Regions from separate parts of the Homo sapiens genome. Here all the other regions are linked to region 2. Evidence: fine-mapped expression QTL. A gene starts in region 2. Each other region holds a variant in brackets. All regions are shown on one strand. Distances are between the middles of the regions. Region 1 overlaps FAM3D-AS1 (FAM3D antisense RNA 1). Region 2 holds the start of FAM107A (family with sequence similarity 107 member A). Region 3 overlaps LOC105377109 (a long non-coding RNA gene).

The links.
Region 1: its variant is fine-mapped to the expression of FAM107A in testis (GTEx, PIP above 0.99).
Region 3: its variant is fine-mapped to the expression of FAM107A in visceral fat (GTEx, PIP 0.99).

What each region holds. Positions count from the first base shown.
Region 1 is chr3:58,622,933-58,632,892 of GRCh38, forward strand. It overlaps FAM3D-AS1 (FAM3D antisense RNA 1), which reads left to right. Exons shown (of 4, transcript NR_134853.1): 3 at 9,607-9,728. It also overlaps a transcript of FAM107A not described here. Among named protein-coding and RNA genes, the nearest start is that of FAM3D-AS1, 21 kb to the left of the region's middle. RefSeq lists an enhancer at 5,926-6,427. The variant G/A (reference allele first, on the strand shown) is at 5,536.
Region 2 is chr3:58,574,497-58,584,456 of GRCh38, forward strand. It overlaps FAM107A (family with sequence similarity 107 member A), which reads right to left and starts at 2,895. Exons shown (of 4, transcript NM_001076778.3): 1 at 2,813-2,895. LOC107984079 (a long non-coding RNA gene) reads left to right here. Exons shown (of 3, transcript XR_001740724.2): 3 at 5,128-5,679.
Region 3 is chr3:58,671,725-58,681,684 of GRCh38, forward strand. The region is part of intron 2 of LOC105377109 (a long non-coding RNA gene); the gene reads left to right. Among named protein-coding and RNA genes, the nearest start is that of FAM3D, 9.9 kb to the left of the region's middle. The variant C/G (reference allele first, on the strand shown) is at 5,818.

The DNA of each region.
Region 1 (9,960 bases), 48 kb after region 2:
TTCTCCTCAGAGAAGCCGTCTGAGGCGGTGGGCAGAGTCAGGGTGATGGGATGGCATGCTGTGAGCGCCTCCTGATGAGGTCCTCACACGTCACTGAGCTGGGCGCAATGAGCTGGAATCCTCTGCTGGGCTTGGCGGCCCTGAGCACCAGGCAGGCCCATCCATCATCGGCAGGGAAAATTGTTCAGGGAGCCAGCAGGGCCCAGCCAGATGTGTACCTTCTGGGCTCTGATAGAATGAACACACCCTTTCAGGCCATTCATCAAATTTAGCCATAGTGCTTCTATTTTTTTCCCCTTTTGTTTCAGTCAAGGCAACTTTCTCTTAATGAAGGTGAATGCAAAGCGATGAGTGTCTTGGTAAACAACAGGGTCAGAGGACAGGACTCTTTCAGGGCCACAAAAAACCTGGGTGGTGTTGGGTTTGGAGAAATGTTTTACAGAACGAAAGCCAAGTGTCCAAACCTCCAGGGGGCTATGCTGCCGCCTCCTGCCCTGCAGAAGCTCCACCTGCAGCCTCTAGAGCAGCAGCAACAGGACCACGTGCCATTCCCTGAGCACCCACTGAGTGCTGGGCACCTCGCCCCAGCCTGCTGTGGAAGGTAAATCATCATGCTGCTTGACAGCTGAGGAAACTGAGGCTCAGAGGGGTTAAATGAGATGCCCCGACAGGGGCTCCAGGTGGGATGTGAGCACTGTTGTGTTTCCACCTTCAGAAGCGCCGGCAGTGGGGTTTGCTGTTTGAGAGGCCAGGCTCTTAGGGCAGCCTGGGTCAAATGTTAACTCCACCCTTACTAGCTGGGTGACCCTGAGCCTCTTGCTTAACCTCTCCACGTCTCTGGATTTCTGGGTGATAAAACTCTCCATGTCCAAGAGCTGTTTGAAGACTAAATGAGCGAATTGGTGCAGAAGCGGCAGTGCATGCGAGCTGTGCTCAGGAACATTTTCCATTTAGCAGCCCCTTTAAGGGTGGCATTACGGTCACAGCCTGGGGAGCTGGACTTGTGCAGGGCAGCCTCTGGAAGCTTGTGGTTGTGTCCTCTATCCTGGGCGAGGGCACTGGCCACTGCTGATTGGGGTGGAGGACGGCGTGCCCACACTCTGTTGGTGTCTATGAACTGGCTGGTGTCTGAGGCCCATGGAAGGTGCTTTTCTTGAACCCACTGCTGCCGCAGGACCTGTGGCCTTGCTGTGTAATGCAAGGGCTTAAAACGTGGCTCCCATCCAGACATCTGGGTTGAACTCACCTCTCTGGCATCAATGCATGCCCAGTGGGTCAAATGTTGAAGTTTCTGGAATGTTCCAAACAGTGTTAGAGGGATTGCTTCTGTGTGTTAAAATATCTTCTTGCAAAAACCCTGATAGAGGCCAGGGTACCCACCTTGGTGCCCTTGATAGGGGCAGATTTAAAAAAATGCCAAGTCCAAGGGAAGTTCAGGCCCTGCCTAAGAAGAACAGAAACAACAATGTCTGTGTTTTGACTCCTGGCCCAGTGGTCTATCTGTCACACCCTCGACCCTTTCAGTGTTCTTCCATTCTCTCTGCCCACCCCACAGCTGGAGAGAACGCTGTCTCTCCTCCTGGGGGGCCATTACAATGAAATGTCCAGCACTCTCCCTTCCATTGAGTAACAGCCATGCCATTGGGAGACAGATCTGTGGCTCCAAGGGTGGGCTCTGGTTGGCCTTAACCAACCACGTGATCCCTTCCATCCCCTGCCAGTGTGGGTTTAGGATTCTAGGCAAAGCCTATGCCCCTGACATTCCCCAGGGGACAAAGGTGAGTTCACCTAAAAGCAAAGTCCAGACCTTGCCTAAGAGGAATAGAAGCAACAACGCTGTGTTTTGACTCCTGGCCCAGGGGTCATGTGCCCAGTCACCTCTGCTTCAACTTTCACACATACTACCAACTATTTTTTGCCTGCCTATTAGTCTCTGCAACTGACAGGGACGGCCTCAAGGGCAGGGGCTGTGTCTCCTCACCCTTGGCTCCAGCTCCACATAGGCCCTGGCATAGGGCAGCAGGTGCCTGCCTGATCAACAGCCTTCTGTGGGAGGTTGGGGTGGGGCTGAGGAAGATGCTGTGGACAGAGCTATGGACCAGGAAGGGTGGGATGGGCTGGGTTGTTTGGAGTCAAGCAGAATGGGGTCAAAATCCTACCCAATAAAAATGAGAAATAAAAATAAAACTTTAAACAAACCCCACCCCTCCACTCTGGCAAGTGACTGAACGGACCCCCTCTTGGCCAAGGAGACCCCAGAGAAATCTTGAAAACCGGGTTTCTGGCCATGACGGGATGGGAGGTCGCACGTGCCCCGTAGTGTGCCATCCCTTGATAACCTCCGTTATCCTAATTCCCTAAGAGCTAAACAGAAACAGGCCTTTTCAAAAGACTCCATGCTGATTTCAACCAACTGCCCCTCCCTTTTGTGGTTTTAACACAAAAACCAACCAGCATTCTTTCTTGATAAGAGATCACCAATCATGGAGCGGTTCTAGCCAGTCTGCAGAGGATGCACAGTGAGGGTTTTCGTGCTCCCTGCTTCACCTTTGACATCAGAGGGCTGAAAACTCCACCCTCAGATCACACTAAGGCCAACATTTTTTTGTACCTGGGGCCTGTAAGAGGCATGAAGCTCAACTGTGCATGTAGATGTTTCTCCTTTCATAAATATTCATGACCCCTCCCACAGCTTATTGAATATGTATATTTGGCCATGCTGCTCAGCATAAATTTCTACTCCCTTTGCCTCTTCCTCAAAGTGTCAGTTTCTGGATTCTGGCCAGAGGCCATGCTTCCCAGCCTCTCGGAATGGCCACCCTGCAGGCTGCAACCCTTTATGAGAAATAAAGCTCCTCTTTCCAAATTAACAACAATAGCAGTACCCTGCTCTTTCCCCCACTAGCTGCATGACCCTGGCTAAGAAATTACTTCTTCCTTGAGTTTCTCAACCTTGATGGAACAGGTCATCACTGGTTGTCTGAGGATCAGAGTCCCATGTTTATCGGGGAGCCTCTGGGCTTGGGGTAGCACACTGAGCACTTCACAGGCATCATCTTGTTGAACTTCCCACGAAGCAGGTACCAGCCCCCCTTTATAAACAAGAACCTGAGGTCCAGAGGGGTTCAGGTCATCGCCACGGTAGGTGGGTGGTGGATCTGGGACACGGCAGCCTGTCTATGCCACTGGGATGGCAGTACCGGGTCGTTGTGGTTGGAGAGCAGTGAGCACGTAGGACAATCCCGAGAGCTGGTGAGTAAATGCAGGCCCCTCTTTGCCCCTAAGAGGCTGATCCAGGAGGTCTGATGGGCCATGAGAAAGTGACTGTTTCACAAGCTCCCTCCTACTCCCCACCCCAGGATGCTGACGCAGGGGTCCGCAGAGCACATTTCCAGAAACAGTTCTCAGGCAATGCTGTCTACAAACCCCCAGCTGAGAGCTCAGGCTTAGAAGGTGAGGGATAATAACATGAATAGAATTCTAATAATAATGGAGCAAAGCCTCTACACAGTGCCAGGCAGTGTTCCAAACACTTTCACTCATTTAATTTTCACAATGATTTTCCAAGGTAGTGATTATTATTGGCCCTATTTTACAGGTGAGGAAATAAGGTACAGAAAGCTTAAATAACTTGCCTATTGCCCTACAACTGGTAACAGCTGGTTAGCTAACTTTATAATAATAATTTTAAGATCTTTCCCCTGTATCCACCTGCATCAGACACTCTCCTGGGGTATGGGGAAGGGGTACCCAGGGAGCTTTTATTCAGGGAAGTAGAGATGTGTGTGGTTAAGACCAGGGAGCCAGAGAGATTTGGCTGCCCCCGAGTCTGTCCTAGAGATGGAGAGATAGGACACTGGTTCTTCCCTGAGCCCTTGCCTGCTTTCTAGATGCAAGTCTTGGCTGTGAGTTCCAGGGGGAGGGCTGGTGGGCACTGCCGGCTGAAGCTGCAGGGTAGGTGGGTCGGGGCTCCCACTTGCTAGGTCCAGTCTCCCTTCCCATGACCAGGGCCCCAACAGGACACTTAGAGGTTCCTACCTTCTTCCCCTGGGCTGCTCCCATGGCACGAAGTGGGCACCAGGCCTGGGTGGGCTGCAGGGGCCAGGCTGGGGTCCTCCCTGCTGGCGTTGATCTCAGGAGCCAGGACCCAAGGGGCTCCCGGGGCGAGGGCCCCCTGTCCTCTTGCGGCTCATTCTCCCAGGCACAAAGGCGGCTTTCACAGCTGCTCCTAAGCCCGGAGCGCCTCAGACAGGCTTAGGGCGATTGATCCTGACAGAGGGGCCAGTGTCCCCAGGCGGCTTCTATGCCCTTCTTGGGTCCCTGCAGCTCCTCACCTCCCAGAACCCTGCCTCTCTCAGGAAGGGAAACTGAGGCAGCTGGGAAATGAGGGAAGACGTGGGGCAGTCCTCTCATCACACACCGGTAGCTCAGGCGCGGCGGGTGACCTCTGCCTGGCCCAGCGGGCAGGACTTGGCCTTCTCACCTTGCTGGGCACCACTCAGCCGACAGGGCCAGACGGTGGAGGCCGTGGGCTGGCTGAGGTGCAGAGCTCTGGGAGGGCTGCGTGCGGATGTCAGCTTCAGCTGGACAGCCCCATTAATAATAGACCTTTGAAGATGCTTGGGGTCCGGGGCTCTCCCACAGCAGATACTCTGAGAGCAGACTCCTTCATTCAACTGGGCAGCAGGCTGCCTGGAAGGGCTGGAGGGCTGCTGGTCTGGGCCCAGGCCAAGAAAATATCTGAAGGCCAGATTCCAGGCCTGGGGCCAAGTTCTCAAAGTGCCCCCGGCAGTCACTCTCCTCCTCATTTGCCAGCCCTGTCCTTCTCCGTGATGCCAGCTTGTGGCAGAGGTTAAGGCTAAAGAGACCTTGGGCTTGAACTGTAGCTCTGTCCCTGATAGTTGTGTGGCCTTGGGGGCACGATGTTGTGTGTGTGTGTGTGTGTGTGTGTGTGTGTGTTTGTGAAGCACTCATACTGCAGAGCTAAATGGGGTAAGGTGTGTGTGTACAGCTGAAGCCATCGTTTTGCGAAAGCATAAATCAGAGCATGTTGCTCTGTTTTATCTGTCACTTCACCAAAGGTGGGGTAAGAGTTGCCCCCACTGCATGGGGCTGTGGGGATGTGCAGAGCATCTGGTGAACAACAATTCCTCAGAGAAGTTAGGTGCCACTGCTATCATGCTGCTAATAACACAAATGATATCCACTGCCCAGTGGAAAGTCCCGAATAACCAGTTCACTAAGCACAACACCGTTTCCCAAGAGGTGGGGGGGTTGGGGAGACCTTGCCACCCTTTCCTTTCCTCTAGCACGATGCCTGGCACACAGTAGGTGCCTGCAACACATACACAGATGACTTACGGAATGGCAGCTGGTGGAGGGTCAAGAATTAGGCATTCTAGATCCAGCCTTGCCAACAGAACCAAACACCCCATGGTCTGCAAGGTCTGATTGACTGTCTTGCTAGGACCTCATTTCCCTCTCCTCCCTCTCCCTGGTAGTTTCTGGGTCACAGCACCTTTCCCCCCTTCTCAG[G/A]GCCTTTGCACTTGCTATTCTCTCTGCGTGGAATGTTCTCTCCCCCACTTCCCCTCCACTGCCCATATTTTGATCTTTGCCTGATTCTATCCTTTTTGTCCTTCAGGCTCCTCAGAGAAGCTTTCTCTGTTGCCTTGTGCAAAGCAGTTCCCAGGCTCTCTGTTTATTACTTTGTTGTAGCACTCATCAGCAACTGAAATGATATGACTTCGGTGTTTATTGTCCGTCTCCTCTGCCATTCCTCTGGAATGGCAGTTCCACAAAGACCAGGGCCTGGTCTGTCCTGCTCCTCAGTTTACCCCGAGTCTAGAGCAATATTAGTGGAAGAATCCATGATGGAGGATTAAATGAAATAGTCTAAGTAGGTCGAGTGCTTAACACAGTCCTGACTCATCGAAAGTGCTCGCTTCATGGCACTGCTTAATACTGTTGTTATTGTTACTGTATTTCCTCCGATACCCATGACCCTTCCAGCCAAGCAAACATGTAGCTTCTTCCTTCCGCCCCTTCCCTTGGGTTCAGCCTCTGCCTTCCTCGGCTGCTCCCCACTCCTTTTCTCCCTGTTCCAGTCGTGGCCTGATTACAGTTTCGGATTTCCTGCAGAAAGGAGAGAGTCCACAAAATTGTAAAGGGAAATGACTAAATTGGCCTTCAGATGGAGCAGTAAAAATGCTGTAAGTCAACACGGAAGATCAAACTCCTTTGGCAACCATCCCATAATTATCCACCAGCTTGACTCTTGGTGGGGTGGGAGGAAAGAAAATGATTCTTACGCATTTATTAATGTTTTCCATCTGTTTGGAGCCCTGCCGAAATGTGGCTTAGTGCTGCAGTGAAAGCCTGGTTGACAGAGCCTGTGATTGGGCTCTGAAGTCCAGGCCCTGGCAGGATGATGGCCCAAAATGCAACATTCAGGCCACATGGCATGGGCAGGAGGAATGGGGGTGGAGGCCCCAGAGCCCAGCACTATGCCTGGCGCAGAGGATGTACTTGGAATACGTGAACAGATGATTTATGAGGTGACAGCTGGTGGTGGAGGACCAAGGAGCAGGTGTTCTAGATCCATCTTTGCCCTGTCTCACTCTGTGGCTGGGCACATCCCTTAGACTCTCTTTCTCCATCTAAAACATGAGAGTAAACATGTGTTCCTTCTTGACCCACAACCTTATAGAAGGAAGTAAGGCTTACGAAGTGTGAGGGGGGCTTTGGGTTTTAAAAAGAGGAGTTCTAAATCCCTTGAACCCAGTTCCTCTCCATCTCTTCCAAAGCAATGAAGGCAGGTGTTGAGAATGCTAACTCTGAGGTTCTGTGCAATCTTCAAAAGTCTTCAGAGGCATTCAGGAGCAGGGCAGGAGGGGGAGGAGAAAAAGGGGAAGTGGGGAAGAGAGGAGGAGAAGGAGGATGGGAGAAACTCTGTTTACCTGAGAGTAGGTTTAGGGCAAACATATCTGTTTCGTGTAATGTTGGGGACAGACTGGAATTCCAGCCCTTATTCTGAGACTCCTTATCTATGTGACTTTGGACAAGTCACTTGACCTCTCTGAGCCTCATCTTCCTTCTGTGTAAAACAGGATGACAATGGTTCCCACCCCGTGGACGAGGGGGCTATGAGGATGAAATGAGGTAATTCATGTAAAGCTCTGAGCAGAACGTCTGGAGAACTGCAATTCTCTGTAGAAGTGAGGTGCTGCAATTGTTACACTATCAGCAAGGCCGAAGATAAGTCCAGTGCCCATTGGGAAGTCCCAGATAATGAGTTCATTAGGCGCAACAGCCTTTCCCGAATTGGGTGTGTGGGGAGACCTTGCCACCCTTCCCTTTCTAGCTTGTGCCGCCACCTACTGGTGAAGACAAGAATTACAGCTTCTGGAAAGCTCTCTCCACGACCCCACCCCTCACAGCCCCATCCTCACTCCTGGGATGGGTGGGAGGCACATTGGCAGGGAGTGGGGAGGCAAATCCAAGCCCCCAGTTCTGAGGCCACGATTAGCTTGCAGAGATTCCTGAAGGCTTGTCGACCCCAGTGAGAAAATGTGTCCCAAGTCTTATCCATTTCACTTTCTGATGATCCCTGGGACAGGCCCCTGGTCCGGGCCACCACCCTCTATTCCTGGATGATATGGCAGCCTCCTCACTGGCCTCCCTTCCTCCACTCCTTCCCACAGCAGCAAGGAATTTTCAAAACATGCAGCTCTGGTCACCTTGCCCCCAGCTTAAATCTCCCAGTGTGTCCCCTGCCCTGGGACAAAGTCCAAGCCCTCTGCCCAGCTCACAAGGCCCCTCGGGCTCTGACCTCCCACTCAGCCCTGTTACCCATCCTCTGCCCCTTCCAGGCCTTGTTCATGCTGTTCCCTGGCCTGACATGCCCTTCCCTCCCTTCTTTGCCTGGTGAGCTCCTACACACTCCTGAGGGCTCAGCATGGGTGCTGCTTTCTCCAGGATGCCTTCCTGGATCCCCCAAGGCTGGGGCAGCGGTCCTGCAGTCTTTCCCCTTGCCAAGCCATGTCGCCTCTGGATTTGTATCCCCTGCTAGACTGAGTGGGAACGGTGCTGGGTTTTCTTCACTGCAGCATCCCCAAGCCTGCCGGACTCTTGATGCATATCAGGTTTGCTGAGTGATGAAAATCTTGGCGATAAAGACCCAACTCTTTACAGCTTGAGCTGACCTGGGGGTCCCTATAGTGGCCACAATGTCCTGAAAATGACGTTGAGAGTCTGACAGGTGTTTGCCACTTTTGTAACACCCACCCAAGAGGGGCCTAGTGTGGCTGGCTCGAGAATGCAGTCTCCTTGATGGGTTATGGGGGTACAATGATGGCTACTTGGGCTTATCTTCTGACTTATTCTGGGCATCTGAGGAAGGAGTGGGAAGCTGGAGTGGGGCATGATCCCTAATCTTTGCCTTGTGTTCCCTGGTGTGGAACAGCACGTTGCCTCTTCCATGGGCTCCACATGGCAGTGGCAAGTGCAGCTCCCCCACTCTGAGCTCTTTCTCCTTGAGAACTGATCCCTTTTATGACAACAATTCCTGCAGACCTGGAGGTCTTATCTCCCAGCCCAGGCTCAGGCTCAGTCCCATCCAGCTGGCCATGCCCACCACCTCTCTTAGGATGGGTACCCCAGGATCCCACTTCGGGATAGGGATTGTCGTGTAGGTGATTTGTTAAGGACTGGCCCCTGGGGACACTGGTAAGGGAGTGGAGGAGCAGGATGGGAAAGGGGAAAGAGGTAAGCAAAGGGACACTTTCAGGCAAAGTCCCAGTTCCCGCCTGATCCCTCTGGGAATCCTGGAGTGTAAATTGCACCTCGTGGTCGTCATCATGCCCCAAAATAAAGAGCTGGCCTTTCACGTTCCCATACCTGCCAGTCATTAGCTAAGGACCATCCTGGGGTGGTGTACACACCCCCAGCTTCCTGGTCTGTCTTCTTTGCACTTGTGCTCAAAGAATGTATGAGTAGCCCAAGGGCAATTCTCCAAAGAAGAGTTCAGACTGACCATTAGTAACAAAATCTGGGAAAGGGCACCTGGGACGCTTCCCTGAATTCTCTGATTGAGCCAGTTGACATGTTCTCAGTCTTCTTTGAAGTGTTGTGCAGTGCAGTTTCTGGAAAAGTCCATGTGTCTTCTCTTCAATGAGGCAGCTACCCCATGTCTTAAAATAGTGGCCACTGCCAAGAGCCCTCTGCCTAGCCCTGGTCCCTGCTCATGAGCTCATTTTAGAGGTCTTTATATGTTCTTTAAAAATTTTACAAGGTACTCCTGCTTGTTGTAAAGTGAAATTTCCGAGCTCTCAAAGGTGTTTATGGTCATCATGAAAATTTCATGCCACCTTCATTCCCAGAGCAGGTTTCTGGGCAGATGTTTTTCCAGGTAGTCTACTGATGTGGTTGGAAGTGGTTATTCAGGCCTGCCAGCATGCTCCCGCTTTCATCCGTGAGGGTGAGCTGGGGTGGGTTGGGCAGGGAGTGACAGAATTGACAGGATGTCTGGATGGGCACCTTCTGACTTCCTCAGCCAACCCTGAGCACGGCTCCCCGCCGGCTCTTTGAATTTTTTTTTTTTTTTTTTAGATGGAGTCTCGCTCTGTCACCCAGGCTGGAGTGCAGTGGTGCAATCTCGGCTCACTGCAATCCCCGCCTCCCAGGTTCAAGCGATTCTCCTGCCTCAGCCTCCCAAGTAGCTGGGATTACAGGTCAGTGCCACCATACCTGGCTAACTTTTATATGTCGGCCAGGCTGGTCTTAAACTCCTTGCCTCAGTTGATCCGCCCACCTCGGCCTCCCAAAGTGCTGGGGTTATAGGCGTGAGCCACCGCACCTGGCCTGGACCTTGATTTTGATATCACTGCAATTGTAGCCCGTGTCCCACCTGCCGTGGCCCCTGGTGGAAGGTTCACACACACTATTGTCTCTACCCCAGGCTAT
Region 2 (9,960 bases):
ATCTGATTAAGGTCACAGTTCTTAGCAGCTGTGTGATCTTGGGATGGTCTCTAACCTCTGGGATGCTCCTCTGTAGAATTGTGATGCTGTGAAGATTGGATGAGCTAAAGAGCTGGGCATGGGGTGGAGGCCACCAGTAGGCGACAGCTATTGAGTGTCTTGCATGACTATAGGATGGCAAATAATTCTCAATATGCAGTTTATGGGACTGATGTTGTTTTTCCTGGGGTGGGGATAATAAGGGGTCTGAGGAAAGATTTGGAACCCCTTGCTTGGTTCCTCCCTGGTTCTGTTGGTGACCCAAGAGGTCCCAGAGCTCCTTGCCACAGGCTCCACAGGATGTTGGCCCCACACCAGGCAAGGCTCAGCAGAGATCACTGCTGCTCCCACGGAGAGTGCACCGGGCCACTGGGGCATGCATGGCTAATGCAGGGTGGCAGATTTGAAACCAAACACTGGTGCCTGCAGCCACAGGAGAGAGTAAGGAGAGACAGAAGGAGAGCTGCACTGATGGAGTCTCGGGGCCCAGTTCGTCTTGACAATAGCCATGGGACCCCAGGCTGTCTAAGGCCTCAGTGTCCCTTCCACTTGCCTCTCCACTGTTCTGGTAGTCATGTTTCTGTCTTCGATGGCATCAGTTGTAACAAATGACACATAAGCCAGTAAAGCAATGGTTAAAGCAGATGTTTTAGTGGAGACAGAGTGGGTTTGATTCATGGTGGCAATCCTTCCCAGCTGTGTTACCTTGGGCAAGTAGCTTAACCTCTCTGAGCCTCTATACAGCAAGGATAACAGCCTATTCATGGAGCAGTTTGGAGGGTGAAGTGATACAATGGCATGATGTGCTTAGCCCAGCGCCTGGCAGAGTGATGCTCACCGAAGACAAACTATGGTACTTCTGTCCTGAAGAAACCCTGTGGTCACCACTAGAATTTGATCTGGATCTCTAAATCACCCTTGGAGGCAGCCAGTGGTACCCTGTTTTATAGATGAGAAAACTAAGGCTCAGAGAGGCCAAGCTACTTGTCTCGATACACAGAGAGTAAGCAGCAAAGCCAGGACCTTGGACGCCAAATTCAATGCTCTTTCTACCTCTCCACTGTCTTCAAGGTGCAAAATGTCTTTTAGTTGACAAAGCAGGGTTATGTCCCTTTTCTCTCTCTAGATAGTCAAGAAACCCCAATGAAGAGGCTGTGTGAGCCCATTTTATAGATAAGAACATGGAGGCCTGCTAACTTGAGGACTCCTAGCCTACGTGAAATGCAAACTCTCACTGGGGAGCCCCAGCCTGGCCCTAGCAGCTTTGGGCTTAAGCTAGAGTCCACGGGCCTGTCTGGCCTCAGGCTGGTCTCTGTTTAGGAGAGGACCAGCTGGTGGCCTTCCCTCCTGTGCCCCCACTTCCTCATTACTGTTCAAGCTGCTGGGTTCCGAACACATTCAGAACCCTCTTGGTTCAGCATTTAATGGGATGCCAGGGCAGAGGAGAAGAGAGGCTTTCAAAATAACGACTGGCAAAGGAAAAACAGGCATTCAGTAAAAGTGACAAGCACGGTCACTGGATTTCCTGACCCTTCTGGCTTTTTTCCTCTCCATGGGGAAAGTGCCTATTTGTATTTCACTGGCCAGCAGCCAAAGAACAGTGTATCTCGGAGCCACCTCCAGATCTCCCAGCAGCTTCTGGTCGATGCTCGGAAGCCCCCAGCAGAGCTGCTTGTCCATTTGGATGCAATGACTCAAGGCTGACTTCCTGAACATTTTGCCTCAGGTCCGTTGCAACTTCCTACCTCGGAAGGAGAATGTTGGGTGGACATTTAGGATTTTGAACCAATTAAATAGCAGAGTCCAGGGCTAGACATGGAGGATACTTAGCAAGGTTAGTGGACAGCATTGTGCAGTTGATCTGGAACAAGCATCAGCAGACCTGGAATCCCTGCTGGCTCATTAGTGGCATGATGTCAGCCACTTTACCTGGCAGATGCCTCTGCAGGGAAAATTCCAGCAGGTACTCACCACCAACAGAACTAAGAGGGCCACTCAGGATCTAAGCCACCCAGAGATGCAGGCGTGGGGGCTGCCTTGAAGCTCAAAGCTACTTGGGTTTGGTAGCAGTTTCAAAAAGTGACACACCCAATCCTACAGCTCTTGATTTCTGGCCCAATCTCAGACTTGCCTTGTATTGCAAAGTCCTAAAGCCAAATTCACCAGAAAGGCAGGCCCTTCACACGTTAACCTGCGTGCACTATGTGCCATGCACTGTGCTAAGCACCTAGCAGCCATATCTCATGAAATATGAAATTCTTACGACAGACTGAAGAGGTGGGTACTGTTATTATCCTCTTTTTACAGTCAAGGAAACTGAAGTTCAGGGAAGTCATCTGATTTCCCCAAATCACACAGCCGGTGAAGGAAAGAGCTTGAATCTGAGCCAAACTCTGAAGCTGAAATCTGTGTTCTGTCTGTTGTGCTGAGAATTAAACCCCCATACTGTGTGATAATTGACTTAGGTGAGGCTATATCATGCATTAATTCAGATTCACCTGAGGATGCAGCAGAAAAAGATCAACAAGAATGCAGGGCTATGCCAGGGGGCTCGCTTCTTTGTCTCCTACCCTTTTCCGAAACCCAGGGTGCCTGGAGGCATCTCCCGTATCATTTTATGGATGCTGGGACATAGCCCGGGTACCTAAACTCAAAGCACTCAGGTCCACTGACAGCCCACTTCAGTGTACCGGGTCTGCCCTCCTTCCCTTCCACCTCCTCCCGAACGGCACCGCTCTCAACAGCAGATGAAACAGAACAGAGATGGTCTTACTTCTCAGGTCGAGTCCTTGGGAAGGGAAGTCAGGAGCGTGTTGCTGGGTTCCTCACTCCACCGGGAAGTCCCAGACTAGCAAGGAGGGCTGCCTCTAGAGGGCGGTTCTTAAACCCCTGGGAACGGAGGCTGCTGAAATGTGCCAACAAGTGAGACAGCCTTTGCATTCCTGTTTATTCTGGTATCAATAAAAAGGAACTGTTACTATAGTAACAGATATTCCACTTGGTGCACGGCCACTTCCACGATGCGGAACATCATGTCCAAGCCACACGCTTGAGAGGCACAAATAAATACCCATTTTGTCAGATTGATGAGGAATAAGAAACACGCCAAGCTTTGTTCTGAGCAAGGCGGCTCACGTAAAGGAATTTCCCTTGTTTCTTATGGGAGGGTCAGGCAAGAGTGGATTCCAGCACTTCCCCATGGGAGGGGAAGCCAAGCTTCCTGAGGCAGTGGTGTGGATTCTTCAGGAGAAAATGGCTCTGGGGGGAAAAGGGTGGGGTGTAAAGGGAGGGGAAACTGCTCAGCATTGGGTCAGTTCTTAATTATCCACGAATGGGTCAGAAACTCCGTACACAGCGTTTTCCTGATACCTTGAATGTCATTGGAACTTCACAGAGGAGCCAACGGAAGAGCGTGGGAGAGGGGATGCACCGTGTCTGGGTCTCAGCAGGCTCATGTGTTGGCCCTGGCTCCAGCACCAGCCCCTTCAGCAGCCACTCAGTGTCTCTGTGTCTTGGTTTCTGTGTTTGTCAAATGTGGAGCATACCAGGGTGGTTGGGAGATGACATGGATGAGATGACATTAGTGAAGCACATAGTCAAAGCTCAGCATATAGGACTTTTCTCCAAGAGAGACCTGGACTCTACGTGATCTGAGGCCAGAGCCCAGCATGGTGCATTTTGCCTGGCAGAATATGTGTTCCATAAGTAGTGGCTCAATGAATGAACATGTGAATGTAAAATATAAAAGTAGGCCAGGCATGGTAGCTCATGCCTGTAATCCCAGCACTTTGGGAGGCTGAGGTAGGCAGATCATTTGAGGTCAGAAGTTTGAGAACAGCCTGGCCAACATGGTAAAACCCTGTCTCTACTAAAAATACAAAAATTAGCCAGGGGTGGTGGCACACACCTGTAATCCCAGCTACCTGGGAGGCTGAGGCAGGAGAATTGCTTGAACTTGGGAGGCAGAGTTTGCAGTGAGCCAAGATTGGGCCACTGCACTCCAGCCTGGGTGACAGAGCAAGACTGTCTCAAAAAAACCCAAAAAACAAACAAACAAAAAAACCCAAGAAAAGTAAAAAATGTATGTAGATCCTTAAGGCCAGCCTGGATGCTTATAGATAATGGAGGCATTCTCCTAATTTCAGAATCAGCTTTCACTTGAAAAGCTGGAAGTGTTTTCTATCGTTTAGTGTCATCCTAGTTCCCCAGTGAGGAAGCTGGGGTCTACCAGTTAGACCAGGCCTCCACCCCAACTTTACTTTCTCATGGAGTCTTGGTTGGCTAGAAGGTGATGAGGCCTAGGACATGCATCACAGGTGAATGGAGGCTTTAACAAGGCAACCTTGTGTCTTCTTTGGCCTATATTATTTGTTCATTTAACAAACATTTATTTAATTCCTACTGTGTTCCTGGCACTGTTCTAAGTGCTGGGGGTACCATGTGAATGACACAGGTAATATCCCTGCTGTCAGGGAACCTACCTTCAAGGGGGACACACAGTAAAGAAGGGGACATTCAGGATGACGTCAGGCAGTGAGGAATGCCGTGATGAACGCAAGGCTGGGTGAGGTGAGAGCGGGTGGTGTTTTAGGGTAGCAGAATCACAAGGAGTCAGTTGTGTGAAGTCTGTACACATGGGAGAGTCTTCGTAGGGTGGGAAGAGCCAGTGGAAAGGCCCAGACTGGGTGGATCCTGGTGTGATGTAAAGGCAGGCTGGGTGCCATCTTGGGAGTGAGGGAGGTGGGAGACAGGGGTGGAGTGGGAGGGACAGGGCAGGCATGTCCAGGGAGTCTTGGCCACGCTGACCATTCTCGAGCCACTTAAACTAAGAGGGTCCTAAATTCTTGGGTATAAAACAATTTTCTGGAAACAATGTGTGGTCCCTTTTTTTCTTCTTCCCCAATTCTGCATTTCTTGAGGCACTATGAATGGTAGCCCCCTCAGCCTCCCACCCTGCTCTGCCTTAACTTCCCCAAACTCTCCTGGTAGAAGAGGACAGCTAGATTCTTGTCAAACCACTCTTTGCTGACCCTGGTTCCTTGCACACATCCTCCTGCTCTGCAAAGAAGTATTTTGAATATTTCCTAGGGTCTTTGGTGGCTCAGATGAACCAATCCCAGTGCCTTCTAACAGTTGGAGAGTAAGAAGGATCCTGGAGCGGGGGAACTTCTGACAGCTCCTGCTCATCCCCGGAGAAGACAGAAGCCCATCACCTGGTACACTTCAGAGGAACACGCACCTGACAGCCAAGGAGAACTGGGCAGTAGTCCTCGGATGTTGGGCGTCATTTTCCGTGGGCAGTTGGGAGTCACTGTGCTTCTCCCACAAAAACTCTTCTCACAGTCCAACTTGTATACAAACCCATCAGACTGCTAGCCCCAGGGCAGGTACCTACCTATCTTCCTGTCCCAGTACTGAGGGGCTCAATAACTATTGTTAACCTGAAGACACCGAAAACCTTGACAGCGCTGAGCTTGTTACAGCACCATCTTGCTGTGTGTCCATGTGCAGGTGCAACTGTACGTGAGATCAGCGGCCAACCACCACCCTTTCCCAGGCCACACTCCATCAGCAAGAGACTATGCTACACCCCAAGACGAGATGCAGCCAATAAACATGTCTATGTATTGACCTGAAAAAGATGTCTTCTACATATTCAATGAAAAATCATATGTAGTAGGATCTCTTTTTTTTTTCAAGATAAAAAAGTTGGTATATGTATAAAGAACTAGTGTGGAGGCAAATACACTAATCTGTTAGCAGAGGTCAACTCTAGATCAGTGTATCTCAAATACTATTACTAGATGTCATTTGAAATGAGTGCTAAAAATGCTCTTGCTTTTTTTTTTTCCTAGGGAGGAACCTAGGAATCTGGATTTTTTTTTTTTTTTTTTTTTTGAGACAGAGCATTACTCTGTTACCTAGGCTGAATGCAGTGGTGCCATAATGGCTCACTGCAGCCTTGACCTCCTGGGATCAAGCGAGCCTCCCACCTCAGTCTCCCAAGTAGCTGAGACTACAGACACATGCCACCACACCCAGCTAATTTTTTATTTTTTTTAGAAATGAGATCTCACTGTGTTGCCCAGGCTGGTCTTGAACTCTTGGCCTCAAGTGTTCCTCCTGCTTCAGCCTCCCAAAGTGCTAGGATCACAGGAATGAAGCCACCATGGAATCTGGATTTTAAACATACCTCTCTGGGGGCTCATTTATATTAAAGAGTTTGAGGACCATTGTTCTACAGCGTAAAATTACAGGCCCTTCTCCTTTGTCACTGCATTTCTGTGATGTTTGCGGTGTTAAAAGAAAAAAAAAGGCCCTAGCATATATTACTTTTGTTATCAGAAAAAGACTCTAAGAATTAAAAATGTGAGAAAGAGCAACATTTCCCAAACAACTGTAGTTAGTTAGGAATCACATCTGGCTCAGTTATGTCATCAGAATATGGGAAAACAGAGGCCCTCTGAACAAACAAGCCTTTGAGGCGTTTACTCCAGGTAATTGCATAATTCAAGCCACAGTCGCTGTCTCCTGCCTCCTTCTGTGTGGCTTTCCCTGGAGGTCTTCCTATTCTTCCAAAAGGAAGGACTCTGGGAAGCCAGGGGCCTGGGGATCTGCATACTTGCTCGGCCCCCTGGTGAGCTGGGGCATCAAAGGGGGAAGCCCAGGGGCTGGGCACACCCCTCCTGTCTTCCCTCCCATCCCCTTTTAACTCTGATTTCTTGGGAACCAGAGGAACCCAAAGGAAGGGGGACAGGGAAGACCAGGGGAGGCAGTCCTGACAGGGAGGTGGAGAATTTTCCTGCATCTATAGTGGGCTGGGCTGCAGTGTGCAGAAAATAACCTCCCCAAACAGCTTTTGTTTCATTTTTGCCCCCTTTCTCCAAGCCCATGGGCGCCTAGAACAGCTTATCTGGGCCCACGAACATCAAACAAGAAGTTTCCATGGCAACTTAAAACTTCCTCCTCAGCCCTGTATTCAGTCTAAATCTCCAAGGCCCCTTTTCAAGGCCTCAATGGGGTTTCTGAGCAGCCACCCACAAAACAGCCCTAGGATTAAACCGTGCCCCCCGCCTCTCAAACATGCTCTGCAGAAAGGACTCGGGGGTTGGGGGAGAAGAAGCTGTGCTGGCAGAAAGAACCTGTCATGGGATCTGTGGAGAGATTATAAAAGGAATGAGAGTCGCCTTTACAACAAGTTTGAACCGGGAAGAATTTACCCAGTTGAGGGATTTCAAGCGTGAAAATGGGAAAGTGAGAGGGGGTGGGGAAGAACTTAGAGTCTTGTTTCTGAAAGCTGGCTCTCCACCCAGCTGCAATTAGACATGGTTAATTTGGTCTCTTAGCTGCAGAAGGACCCTGGGGTACCCCCATCCCCAGTACATTTTAATTCCCTTGTAATCAGACAAGAAGCACAGTGAGTGAATCTATGGATGGTGAGAGGATGTGAGAGGGAGCATGTGTGTGTGTGCGTGTGTGTGTCTGTTTCTCTGTGTGTGTGTGTATGTGTGCGCGCATGCATGCAGGAGAACCTGGGCAGACCACAGCTGTCAAACTGAGCAAACTTCATGATTCCTGGCAGCATAGTTGCTAGATGTACCAAATAAAAATGTCACACATCGAAGTTAAATTTGAATTTCTAATGAGCACCAAATAACTTTTTAGTATAGTCCATGACATAGCTGGAACATGCTTACACTAAAATATGATTTGTTGTTTCTCTGAAATTCAGATGGAACTGAGTGCCCTGTATTTTATCTGGCAGCCCTACCTGGCAGAGGCAGGGGTGGAGGCTGCGTCTGCCCCTCTGGCTGCGGAGAAGAAGTATAGTTGCTGATGCCCGCAGGCACCTGGGGAGGTGCCTTTTTGTCCATAGTGCAGAGAGATGCTTTCCTCCCTTCCAGGAACATGACCTGAGCTCCAGGTAGGATGCAGGTTAACGCCCCTCAAGTGGACTTGAACTACTGGACTGTATTGCCTCCCAGGCATGGCCAAACAGGAGTTATTCCACAGAGGTGACCCTTCTAGCCCTGTGATTGAGAGCATGGACTCTGGTGCCAACCCGGACCACAATCCTGACTCCATTGCTGGACAACTGGGTGACCTTCAACTCTCTGTTTCCTCCTCCCTAAAATGGGGCAGACGTGTTTTTGAGGAACAAAGGAGATATGTTCTGGAGAGCCCTTCACACCGTGGCTGCCATGGAGTCAGGGCTCTGTAAGTGGCAACTATTATTTTGATAACTCACTTAAGAGCATTCAAGTTTGTTTGTTTGTTTGTTTGAGACAGAGTCTTGCTCTGTTGCCAGGCTGGAGGGCAGTGGCACGATTTCGGCTCACTGCGACCTCTGCCTCCCGGGTTCAAGTGATTCTCCCACCTCAGCCTCCCGAGTAGCTGGCATTACAGGCACCTGCCATCACGCCTAGCTAATTTTTGTATTTTTGGTAGAGATGGGGTTTCACTATGTTGGCCAGGCTGGTCTCGAACACCTGACCTCAAGTGATCCACCTGCCTTGGCCTCGCAGAGCGTTGGGATTACAGGCGTGAGCCACTGTGCCCGGCCGAGCATTCAAGATTTTCATCCAACTGAAAAAAGTGGAATTAAAGACTAGAGTCAGAACAGTCTCAACAGTGTAAAACACACACACACTATGCATAGCAAGGTTTGGAAGGAGGCATTTCCAAATGTTATGTGTGGCCGCCCGTGGTTAGTGGGATTATGTGTTAGGCCTCCTCCTCTTTAGTCTCAATTTCTCGAAATATCTATGGTGAGCATGTCTTACTCTAATATTAAGAAATTATTTTAGCCGGGTGCGGTGGCTCATGCCTGTAATCCCAGCACTTTGGGAGGCCAAGGCGGGTGGATGACCTCAGGTCAGGAGTTCGAGACCAGCCTGACCAACATGGTGAAACCCTGTCTCTATTAAAAATACAAAATTAGCCGGGCGTGGTGGCGGGAGCCTGTAATTCCAGCTACTCAGGAGGCTGAGGCAGGAGAGTTGCTTGAACTCGGGAGCCAGAGGTTGCAGTGAGCTGAGATCCCGCCATTGCACTCCACCCTGGGCAACAAGAGCAAAACTCTGTCAAAAAAAAAAAAAATTATTTTGAAATACCTTGGGATAAACGTTTTTCTTTTTCTTTTTCTTTTCTTTTTTTTTGGGGGGGGACACGGTCTTGCTCTGTTGCTCAGGCTGGAGGGCAGTGGAGCAAACACAGCTCATGGCAGCCTCAACTCTCTGGGCTCAAGTGATCCTCCCACCTCAGCCTCCTGAGTAGCTAGGACCACAGGCATGCACCACCATGCTGGGCTAATTTTTAAACATTTTTCTAGAGACGAGATCTCACTATTTTGCCCAGGCTGGTCTTGAACTCCCGGCCTCAAGGCATGAGTCACCCAGTGTTATATTATCTGCTGCATGACTTGAGGCTACTGTTAATGAAAAGAGCCTCTATTTTGGGTCTGAATCTGTAATGTCCTCCTTGGGGGCTTCTCAACGAAAGGAGTGCTCACCCCTTCAGCACATGGCCAAATTGGCTCCTTACTCCCATTCTCACTTCCTGCCGCTCCCTGTGTGGAGCAGCCAGAGAGCGGGTCCAGAGGCACACGGTCCTGGTTGGAATCTCAGCTTCACTCTCGATGAGTTGTATGACCTTAGACAAGTCATGTTACCATCTGAGCCTCGGTTTCCTCATGTTTCCAATAGGGGTTTCCATTACTCTGCTCCCTGAGAGGAGGGGCAGATCTGTTTTATTTATAAATACATCCCTGCACCTTGGAAAACAGAGGCCAATAAATATTAGCTGGATGAATAAATGAATGAAGGGAGTTGATGAGATGGCAGATGTACAGCAGAGATGGGGTGATCGTTGAGTGCTGACAATCATCAGCCATTATTGTGACTATCCTCAGAAGGTGTGCAG
Region 3 (9,960 bases), 97 kb after region 2:
TGAAAACCATGGAGAAAAGAGCCACCCAAATGCAAGGCCAGATTTTGAGCACTACCTGTTTAAGATAGGAGTGTGTGTGTGTGTGTGTGTGTGTGTGTGTGTGTGTGTGTGTGTTCCTCAACAGTTGGGAGATAGATGAGGGTGGAACTAGGAATAACAGCCACCACAGCATTCAACATTTATAGAGCACCTGCTGGGCACTCTATTAAACAAGACACATTCATGATCTGAATTCGTTCTAACTACCACATCGAGGGGGAGTACTATTATTACCTAGAACCTACAAATGGGGAAACTGAGGCCCAGAGCAGTTAAGCAATTTGCTCGTGGAGACCCAGCTTTCAAGTGGGAAGTTGAGGAGGGACACACATACACCCTTTCCCTGACAGCTGCAGGCATCAGCGATGAGGGCCCCAGAGCACTGCAATAGTGGATTCCCTGGGGCTTCAGAGCACCCAAGACCCCCAGCATTTCCTGAAATGATGTACTGTTCTTTACTGAGCACAGTCTGGTGTTCCTGGCAGGCAGACAAACTAATCTGAAGATTATTTCCCCAGAGCTGGGGTATGAGAATGCTTCATTCAAAGGGAAAAGCCCAGAGGAGAAAAACCCACCCCCGGCACGTCTGAGACAAAATGGCAGAGCGGACTCACTGTATGTGTATGTGAGTGTGTGTGCCTGAGGGTGTGTACCAAGTGTGGGTACCCTGAGACAGGTGTGTGTGCATGTGTATGCGTGTGAATGCACAGGAGTACACAGATGTGAGTGGCTGTATAGGCTGTATTTGACCTTCTGGGTGCCCAAAGACAGAAGAGTTGGCTCACCGATGGGATAAATGACCGTTGCATCGATTTTTCTAGTTCTAATCTTTGAGAAGAAACTAGACCAGGCAGTAATTTATTTACATTCCCTTCAGCATTTTTCACAGCAGCCACAAGCCTTGATAACAAAAGGAAGCCAGGTGCGCTCTGAAGCCAAGGGAGAAAGTCACAGAGCATGACTGCGCCAAGTGCTTCAGCAAGAAACTACCAACAATTTAGTTTCCCTCACCTCGGTAATTGACCACATCCAATGTGGCCACGTGTGCCTCATGGCCTGATTGGCTTTGTAATAAAGTCAGTGCCTTGGTGTAAGAGACGAAGTTGAGGATAGCATACTGAGTTACAAATTTCCCTTGCAACCATTAATAATTCATTCTTCCATTCATTTCTTTAATGCTACTGCCGTTCCTTTGAACAACAGCAATAACAAGCCATGAAATAGAAGCCTTTCCATCGGTGCTGAGGACTGGAGTGGGCGGTGGGCACAGGTGCTCCTGCACTCAGAGGCCTTGCTCACTGGTCACCAGCCACTCTGTCCACAGTCTGTCTCCAACTGTGGGTGGGCAGAGGTGTAGGGTGGCTGAGTCAGGTCCCAGTCTGATGGGTCTCACTGAGCTAAAACCAAGGTGTCACAGGGCTACATTCCTTTCTGGGGGCTCCTGGGAAAGCTCATTTCCTTGCTTCTTCTAGTATCTAGAGGCCACCCACTCTCCTTGGCTCATGGCTCCTTCCCCATCTTCGAAGCCAGTGAGGTTGCATCTTTATGGCCCTTCTTCCATTGTACCATCTCCCTGACGCTCATCCTTTTGCCTCCCTCCCTCTTTCACCTTATTTTTATTTTTAGAGATGGGGTCTTGCTATGTTGCCCAGGTTGGTCTTGAACTCTTGAACTCAAGCAATCCTCCTGCCTCAGCCTCCTGAGTACCTAGGACTACTGGTGTGAACCTTATGCCTGGCTCTTCTTTCACTTTAAAGGAGCTTTGTGACTACATTGGGGCCCCCAATAATCCAGGACATTCTCCCAATTTTTTTTTTTAAATCATACTTTAAGTTCTGGGATACATGTGCAGAATGTGCAGATTTGTTACATAGGTATACATGTGCCATGGTGGTTTGCTGCACTCATCAACCCATCATCTACATTAGGTATTTGTCCTAATGCTATCCCTCCCCTAGCCCCTCATCCCCCGACAGGGCCCGGTGTGTGTTGTTTCCCTCCCTGTGTCCGTGTGTTCTCATTGTTCAACTCCCACTTATGAATGAGAACATGCGGTGTTTGGTTTTCTGTTCCTGTGTTAGTTTGCTGAGAATGATCGTTTCCAGCTTCATCCATGTCCCTGTAAAGGACATGAACTCATCTCTTTTTATGGCTGTGTAGTATATGTGCCACATTTTCTTTATCCAGTCTATCATTGATGGGCATTTGGGTTGGTTCCAAGTCTTTGCTATTGTGAATAGTGCTGCAATAAACATACGTGTGCATGTGTCTTTATAGTAGAATAATTTGTAATCCTTTGGGTTATACCCAGTGATGGGATTGCTGGGTCAAATGGTATTTCTGGTTCTAGATCCTTGAGGAATCGCCACACTGTCCTCCACAATAGTTGAACTAATTTACACTCCTACCAACAGTGTAAAAGCATTCCTGTTTCTCCACATCCTCTCCAGCATCTATTGTTGCCTGACTTTTTAGTGATCGCCATTCTAACTGGCATGAGATGGTATCTCATTGTGGTTTTGATTTGCATTTCTCTAATGACCAGTGATGATGAGCTTTGTATTCTGTCTGTTGGACACATAAATGTCTTCTTTTGAGAAGTGTCTGTTTATATCCTTTGCCCACTTTTTGATGGGGTTATTTTTTTCTTGTAAATTTGTTTAAGTTCCTTGTTGATTCTGGATGTTAGCCCTTTGTCAGATGGATAGATTGTAAAAATTTTCTCCCATTCTGTAGGTTGCCTGTTCACTCTGATGATAGTTTCTTTTGCTGTGCAGAAGCTCTTTAGTTTAATTAGATCCCATTTGTCAATTTTGCTATTGTTGCAATTGCTTTTGGTGTTTTAGTCATGAAGTCTTTACCTATGCCTATGTCCTGAATGGTATCATCTAGGGTTTTTATGGTTTTAGGTCTTATGTTTAAGTCTTTAATCCATCTTGAGTTAATTTTTGTATAAGATGTAAGGAAGGGGTCCAGTTTCAGTTTTCTGCATATGGCTATCCAGTTTTCCCAACACCATTTATTAAATAGGGAATCCTTTCCCCATTGCTTGTTTTTGTAAGGTTTGTCAAAGGTCAGATGGTTGTAGACGTGTGGCATTATTTCTGAGGCCTCTGTTCTGTTCCATTGGTCTATATATCTGTTTTGGTACCAGTACCATGCTGTTTTGGTTACTGTACCCTTGTAGCATAAATTGAAGTCAGGTAGCGTGATGCCTCTAGACTTTGTTCTTTTTGCTTAGGATTGTCTTGGCTATACAGGCTCTTTTTTGGTTCCATATGAAATTTAAAGTAGTTTTTTCTAATTCTGTGAAGAAAGTCAATGGTAGCTTGATGGGGATAGTATTGAATCTATAAATTACTTTGGACAGTATGGCCATTTGCATGATATTGATTCTTTCTATTCATGAGCATGGAATGTTTTTCCATTTGCTTGTGTCCTCTATTATTTTCTTGAGTAGTGGTTTGTAGTTCTCCTTGAAGAGGTCCTTCACCTCCTCAATTTCAGAACTTGCTATTGCTCTATTCAGGGATTTGACTTCTTCCTGGTTTAGTGTTGGGAGGGTGTATGTGTCCAGGAATTTATTCATTTCTTCTAGATTTTCTAGTTTATTTGCATAGAGGTGTTTATAGTATTCTCTGATGGTAGTTTGTATTTTTGTGGGATCAGTTGTGATACCCCCTTTATCATTTTTTATTGTGTCTATCTGATCCTTCTCTCTTTTCTTCTTTATTAGTCTGGCTAGCAGTCTATCTATTTTGTTAATCTTTAAAAAAAAAAACCAGCTCCAGGATTCATTGATTTTTTGAAGGTTTTTTTGTGTCTCTATCCCCTTCAGTTCTGCTCTGATCTTAGTTATTTCTTATCTTCTGCTAGCTTTTGAATTTGTTTGCCCTTGCTTCTCTAGTTCTTTTAATTGTGATGTTAGGGTGTCGATTTTAGATCTTTCCAACTTTCTCCTTTGGGCATTTAGGCTATAAATTTCCCCCTAAACACTGCTTTAGCTGTGTCCCAGAGATTCTGGTATATTCTGCCTTTGTTCTCATTGGTTTCAAATAACTTACTCATTTCTGCCTTAATTTCGTTATTTACCCAGTAGTCATTCAGGAGCAGGTTGTTCAGTTTCCATGTAGTTGTGGGGTTTTTAGTGAGTTTCTTAATCCTGAGTTCTAATTTGATTGCACTGTGGTCTGAGAGACTGTTTGTTATGATTTCTCTTCTTTTGCATTTGCTGAGGAGTGTTTTACTTCCAATTATGTGGTCAATTTTAGAATAAGTGCAATGCGGTGCCGAGAAGAATGTATATTCTGTTGATTTCGGATGGAAAGTTCTGTAGATGTCTATTAGGTCTGCTTTGTCCAAAGCTGAGTTCAAGTCCTGAATATCCTTGTTAATTTTCTGTGTTATTGATCTGTCTAATATTGACAGTGGGGTGTTAAAGTCTCCCACTATTATTGTGTGGGAGTCTAAGTCTCTTTGTAGGTCTCTAAGAACCTGCTTTATGAATCTGGTTGCTCCTGTATTGGGTGTATATATATTTGGGATAGTTAGCTCTTTTTATTGCGTTGATCCCTTTACCATTATGTAATGCCCTTCTTTGTCTTTTTTGATCTTTGTGGTTTAAAGTCTGTTTTATCAGAGACTAAGATTGCAACGCCTAATTTTTTTTTCTTTCCATTTGCTTGGTAAATCTTCCTCCACCCTTTAATTTTGAGCCTGTGTGTCTTTGCATGTGAGATGGGTCTCCTAAATACAGCACACTGATGGGTCTTGACTCTTTATCCCATTTGCTAGTCTGTGTCTTTTAATTGGGGCATTTAGCCCTTATTATTTAAGGTTAATATTGTTATGTGTGAATTTGATCCTGTCGTTATGATGCTAGCTGGTTATTTTGCCTGTTGGTTTATGCAGCTACTTCATAGTGTCGATGGTCTTTACAATTTGGTATGTTTTTGCAGTGGCTGGTACCAGTTTTTTTTTTTTTTTTCCATATTTAGTGCTTCTTTCAGGAGCTCTTGTAAAACAGGCCTGGTGGTGACAAAATCTCTCAGCAGTTGCTTGTCTGTAAAGGATTTTATTTCTCCTTTGCTTATGAAGCTTAGTTTGGCTGGATATGAAATTCTGGGTTGAAAATTCTTTTCTTTAAAAATGTTGAATATTGGCCCCCACTCTCTTCTGGCTTTTAGGGTTTCTGCAGAGAGATCCACTGTTAGTCTGATGGGCTTCCCTTTGTGTGTAACCCGACCTTTATCTCTGGCTGCCCTTATAATTTTTTCTTTCATTTCAACCTTGGTGAATCTGATGATTATGTGTCTTGGGGTTGCTCTTCTCGAGGAGTATCTTTGTGGTGTTCTCTGTGTTTCCTGAATTTGAATGTTGACCTGTCTTGCTAGGTTGGGGAAGTTCTCCTGGATAATATCCTGAAGAGTGTTTTCCAACTTGGTTCCATTCTCCCTGTCACTTTCAGGTACACCAATCAATCAGGTTTGTTTTCTTCACATAGTCCCATATTTTTTGAAGGCTTTATTCGTTCGTTTTCATTCTTTTTTCTTTAATCTTGTCTTCACGTTTTATTTCATTAAGATGATTTTCAATCTCTGATATCCTTTCTTCTGCTTGATCGATTCAGCTATTGATACTTGCATATGCTGACGAAGTTCTCATGCTGTGTTTTTCAGCTCCATCAGGTCATTATGTTCTTCTCTAAACTGGTTATTCTAGTTAGCCATTCCTCTAACCTTTTTTCAAGGTTCTTAGCTTCCTTGCATTGGGTTAGAA[C/G]ATGCTCCTTTAGCTCGGAGTAGTTTGTTATTACCCACCTTCTCAAGCCTACTTCTGTCAATTTGTCAAACTCCTTCTCCCTCCAGTTTTGATTCCTTGCTGGAGAGGAGCTGTGATCCTTTGGAGGAGAAGAGGCATTCTGGTTTTTGGAATTTTCAGCCTTTTGCACTGGTTTTTCTTCATCTTCATGAATTTATCTACCTTTGGTCTTCAATGTTCGTGACCTTTGGATGGGGTTTTTGTGTGGACGTCCTTTTTGTTGATGTTGATGCTATTCCTTTCTGTTTGTTAGTTTTCCTTTTAACAGTCCGGCCCTTCTGCTACATGTCTGCAGAAGTTTGCTGGAGGTCCACTCCAGACCCTGTTTGCCTGGGTATCACCAGTGGAGGCTGCAGAACAGTAAAGATTGCTGCCTGTTCCTTCCTCTGGAAGCTGTGTCTCAGAGGGGCACCTGCCAAATGCCAGCGGGAGCCCTCCTGTATGAGGTGTCTGTTGACCCCTGCTGGGAGGTTTCTCCCAGTCAGGAGGCACAGGGGTCAGGGGCCCACTTGAGGAGGCAGTCTGTCCCTTAGCAGAGCTCGAGCACTGTGCTGGGAGATCCGCTGCTCTCTTCAGAGCTGGCAGGCAGGAACGTTTAAGTCTGCTGAAGCTGTGCCCACAGCCACCCCTTCCCCCAGGTGCTCTGTCCCAGGGAGATGGGAGTTTTATCTATAAGCCCCTGACTGGGGCTGCTGCCTTTCTTTCAGAGATGCCATGCCTGGAGAGGAGGAATCTAGACAGGAAGTCTGGCTACAGCAGCTTTGCTGAGCTGCGGTGGGCTCCGTCCAGTTTGAACTTCCCCTTTGTTTACACTGTGAGGGGAAAACTGCCTACTCAAGTCTCAATAATGGCAGATGCCCTTCCCCCCACCAAGCTCGAGCATCCCAGGTCGACTTCAGACTGCTGTGCTGGCAGCGAGAATTTCAAACCAGTGGATCTTAGCTTGCTGGCCTCCATGGGGGTAGGATCCACTGAGTAGACCACTTGGCTCCCTGGCTTCATCCCCCTTTCCAGGGGAGTGAATGGTTATGTCTCACTGGCATTCTGGGCACCACTGGGGTATGGATAAAAAAACTGCATCTAGCTCAGTGTCTGCCCAAATGGCCGCCCAGTTTTTTGCTTGAAACCCAGGGCCCTGGTGGCATGGGCATCCAAGGGAATCTCCTGGTTTGCAGGTTTTGAAGACCATGGGAAAAGCGTAGTATCTGGGCCGGAATGCACTGTTCCTCACGGCACGGTCCCTCACGGCTTCCCCTTGGCTAGGGGAGGGAGTTCCCTGATCCCTTGTGCTTCCCGGGTGAGGTGACACCCTACCCTGCTTCAGCTCACCCTCTGTGGGCTGCATCCACTGTGTAACCAGTCCTAATGAGATAAGCCGGGTACCTCAGTTGGAAATGCAGAAATCACCCGCCTTCTGTGTTGATCTTGCTGGGAGCTGCAGACTGGAGCTGTTCCTACTCAGCCGTCTTGCCCAGGTTCCCCCCATTCTCCCAATTTTAAGGTGAGCTGATCAGCAACCTTAATTTTACCTGCAATCTTAATTCTCCTTTGCCATGTAACCTATTCATAATATTTGAAGTGGGAAAATCACTTCAAATGTTTTAAGAATTATGAAAATAATACTTGTTTATGGTAAAATATTCAGAACAGTGCAGAGCTATATGAAATATCTATTTAAATGCTCATCTTTACTCACTCTTGAAGATGAACCACTATTCATAATTTCTAAGTATTTTTCTAGAATTTTCTATGCATTCACAAGCATATATATGTCCTTCTCTCTGGTTCTTTGTCTTTCCCTTTCTGTTTTTCTCTGTTTCTCTCTCCCTTTTTCCTTGCTAGCCAAGCAGCCATACATCAGCTGGCATGAATTTTACTCTCTGCCATGGGTATAAGAAATATCATATTTCTTTATATTTCTAAATCAGGTTAAATTTCACTCCAACCCTCCACTTGTCAGCGTGGTGAGAACTTCAGTATCTACCATAATTTAACTTCAGTGCCAACCATAAATTCCGGAGTTTCTCTCATCCTTCTTAAGGCTGCCAAAAAATGGGGGTGTGGGGGCTTAGTGATGTTATGGAAATAGGATCGGATGTCTCCTTTTCTTTCCACATAGTCACGCATTTTAAAATAGTATCCTGGGAATGGTTCTGATGAAAACAATGTAAATAAACAAACCCACATAGAGACGAAAGACTGCAAGAGATGCAGCAAACTGCCAAATGGCTGTTTCCTGGAGGAGGTGTTTTGGCGATTTTAACTTTCTCCTTGATACTACTCTCTCTGTTCTACAGGTAACAGATGTAACTTTGGAATCATCATAATAAAGTTCAGGATAAGTACTCTATGTGGCTTCTCCACCTGCCTTTCCTTTCGGCTGAGTGTTTGCCCAACTTCCCAGGGGCAAACCCTCCTCGGGCATGGGCACAGGTTTAACAACGCTGGGAAATCCTCAGGATGTGAACCAGAGGCAGCTCCTACTGTGTCATCACTGCCTTCCTAGGTTTAAGGAAGTGTCTGGGTGGGGCAGGGATTTAGAGATCCTGGAAGGAAGCCTTTATGGACACCTCATAGCTTTTTTTATTGGGGTTTACAGCTGTTGTCCTTTTATTCAAAGAGGGAGTACTCACCCTCCCTGGCTTCCAGGCAGCTGGGCTGGCTGGAATTTGCCCTCTTGTCCTGGCTTCTCCAGTGACTTAGGGGAGGCAGAGGCCCCACTGAGGTAGGTGACCTGGAATTTCCCTCCTAGGAGCCAGGCTCTGAGTGGGTGGGCCAGCCAGGCATGTGGGCTGGTGGGTCTTCTCCCAGGGGCAGCCTGAGGGTGGGAGCAGCTCAGAGAACGCAGACATTGAGCACATCTGGGGACCAAAAGGACCCCTGGGAATTTCCTTTTGCAGGTTGTGCACAGGCAGCTTTGGAGTGGGGCAGGGAAGGCCGCTGCTCTGGTATAACCAAGCCTTATGGCATTCCTCGGTCCAGCTGTTCATCGACAAATGCTTAATGAATACCTTCTCTGGGCCAGAAAGCAGGCTGGGGTCTGTGGATATGAGGAAAAGCAAGAGGAGACCCACTTCCTGGTACAATCTGGGGTGGACACCATCAGAGGGATGCTGCCATTTGTTTCCTTTTGCCTGTCTTGCTTTTTTTTTTGGCTTTGTCTCCCATGCCTAAAATATAGTAGGAGCTCAATAAAAATGTGTGAAAAGAATGAAAAATGTGTTTCCTGCTAGTTGGAGTAATCAGTCCATCCCTAAAGAAATCTGAAAATCAAATGAAATGAAAGGATTTTATTTCTGATTCTCATAGATCATCGTCATCATTATCATCTCATCTTCATTGTCATCTCCATCATGATCATAGCTATGGGTGAGGCTCTTTTTTTCTTCATGCTTCCCTGTCATGCTCACATTTCATCATCACTAAGATGCCTGGGAGGAAGCCGGCCTCACCCATCACTTTAGCATGCATGTGGTCTGGTTGCCTGTGTTCAAATCCCGGCTCCTACACTGAGCAGCAGTGTGAGCTTGCTTGGGCAAGTCATTTTGTTTTTCTGAGCCCCGATGTCCTCTGTAAAATGAGGCTGTTAAGAGAGATGCCCCATCGGGTTGTTGTGAGGATGAAATGAGAAGATGCAGATCCAGTGTGCAGCAGGAAGCCTGGCTCAGCAGGGACTGCTTCCGCCCTTTTAGCCGCTGTCTTTCCCTGTGCTCTCCTTGACTTCACTGCCCTCCTCCTTTGCAAGAGGTCCTGACGCTGAGGGAGGGCTTGCTGCCTCAGGGGTGGGGCCCACATCTCTAGGGCTGTGGAGGGTGCTGGAACCAGGACTCAGACATGGAGCAGCAAAGGGAACACTGTGACTGATACTGTTCTCCAAATGCCTCCTTCCTCATTCAAATCCAAGGAGGCCCAGCGTGGGGCTGGGTGACCAGACCAGGGACAGGGTGATGTCGAGGACCAGTGTCTCACCACATCCTCCTAACATCATTGAGAGCAGAACCCAGGTCAGAAATCACCCCATTCAGACCCTTTCAGTGTGAGCGAGAAACCATGCCCCTCCACTCCTGCAGGACTTTGTGGGTACCCTGAGGCTTGCTCTTGACT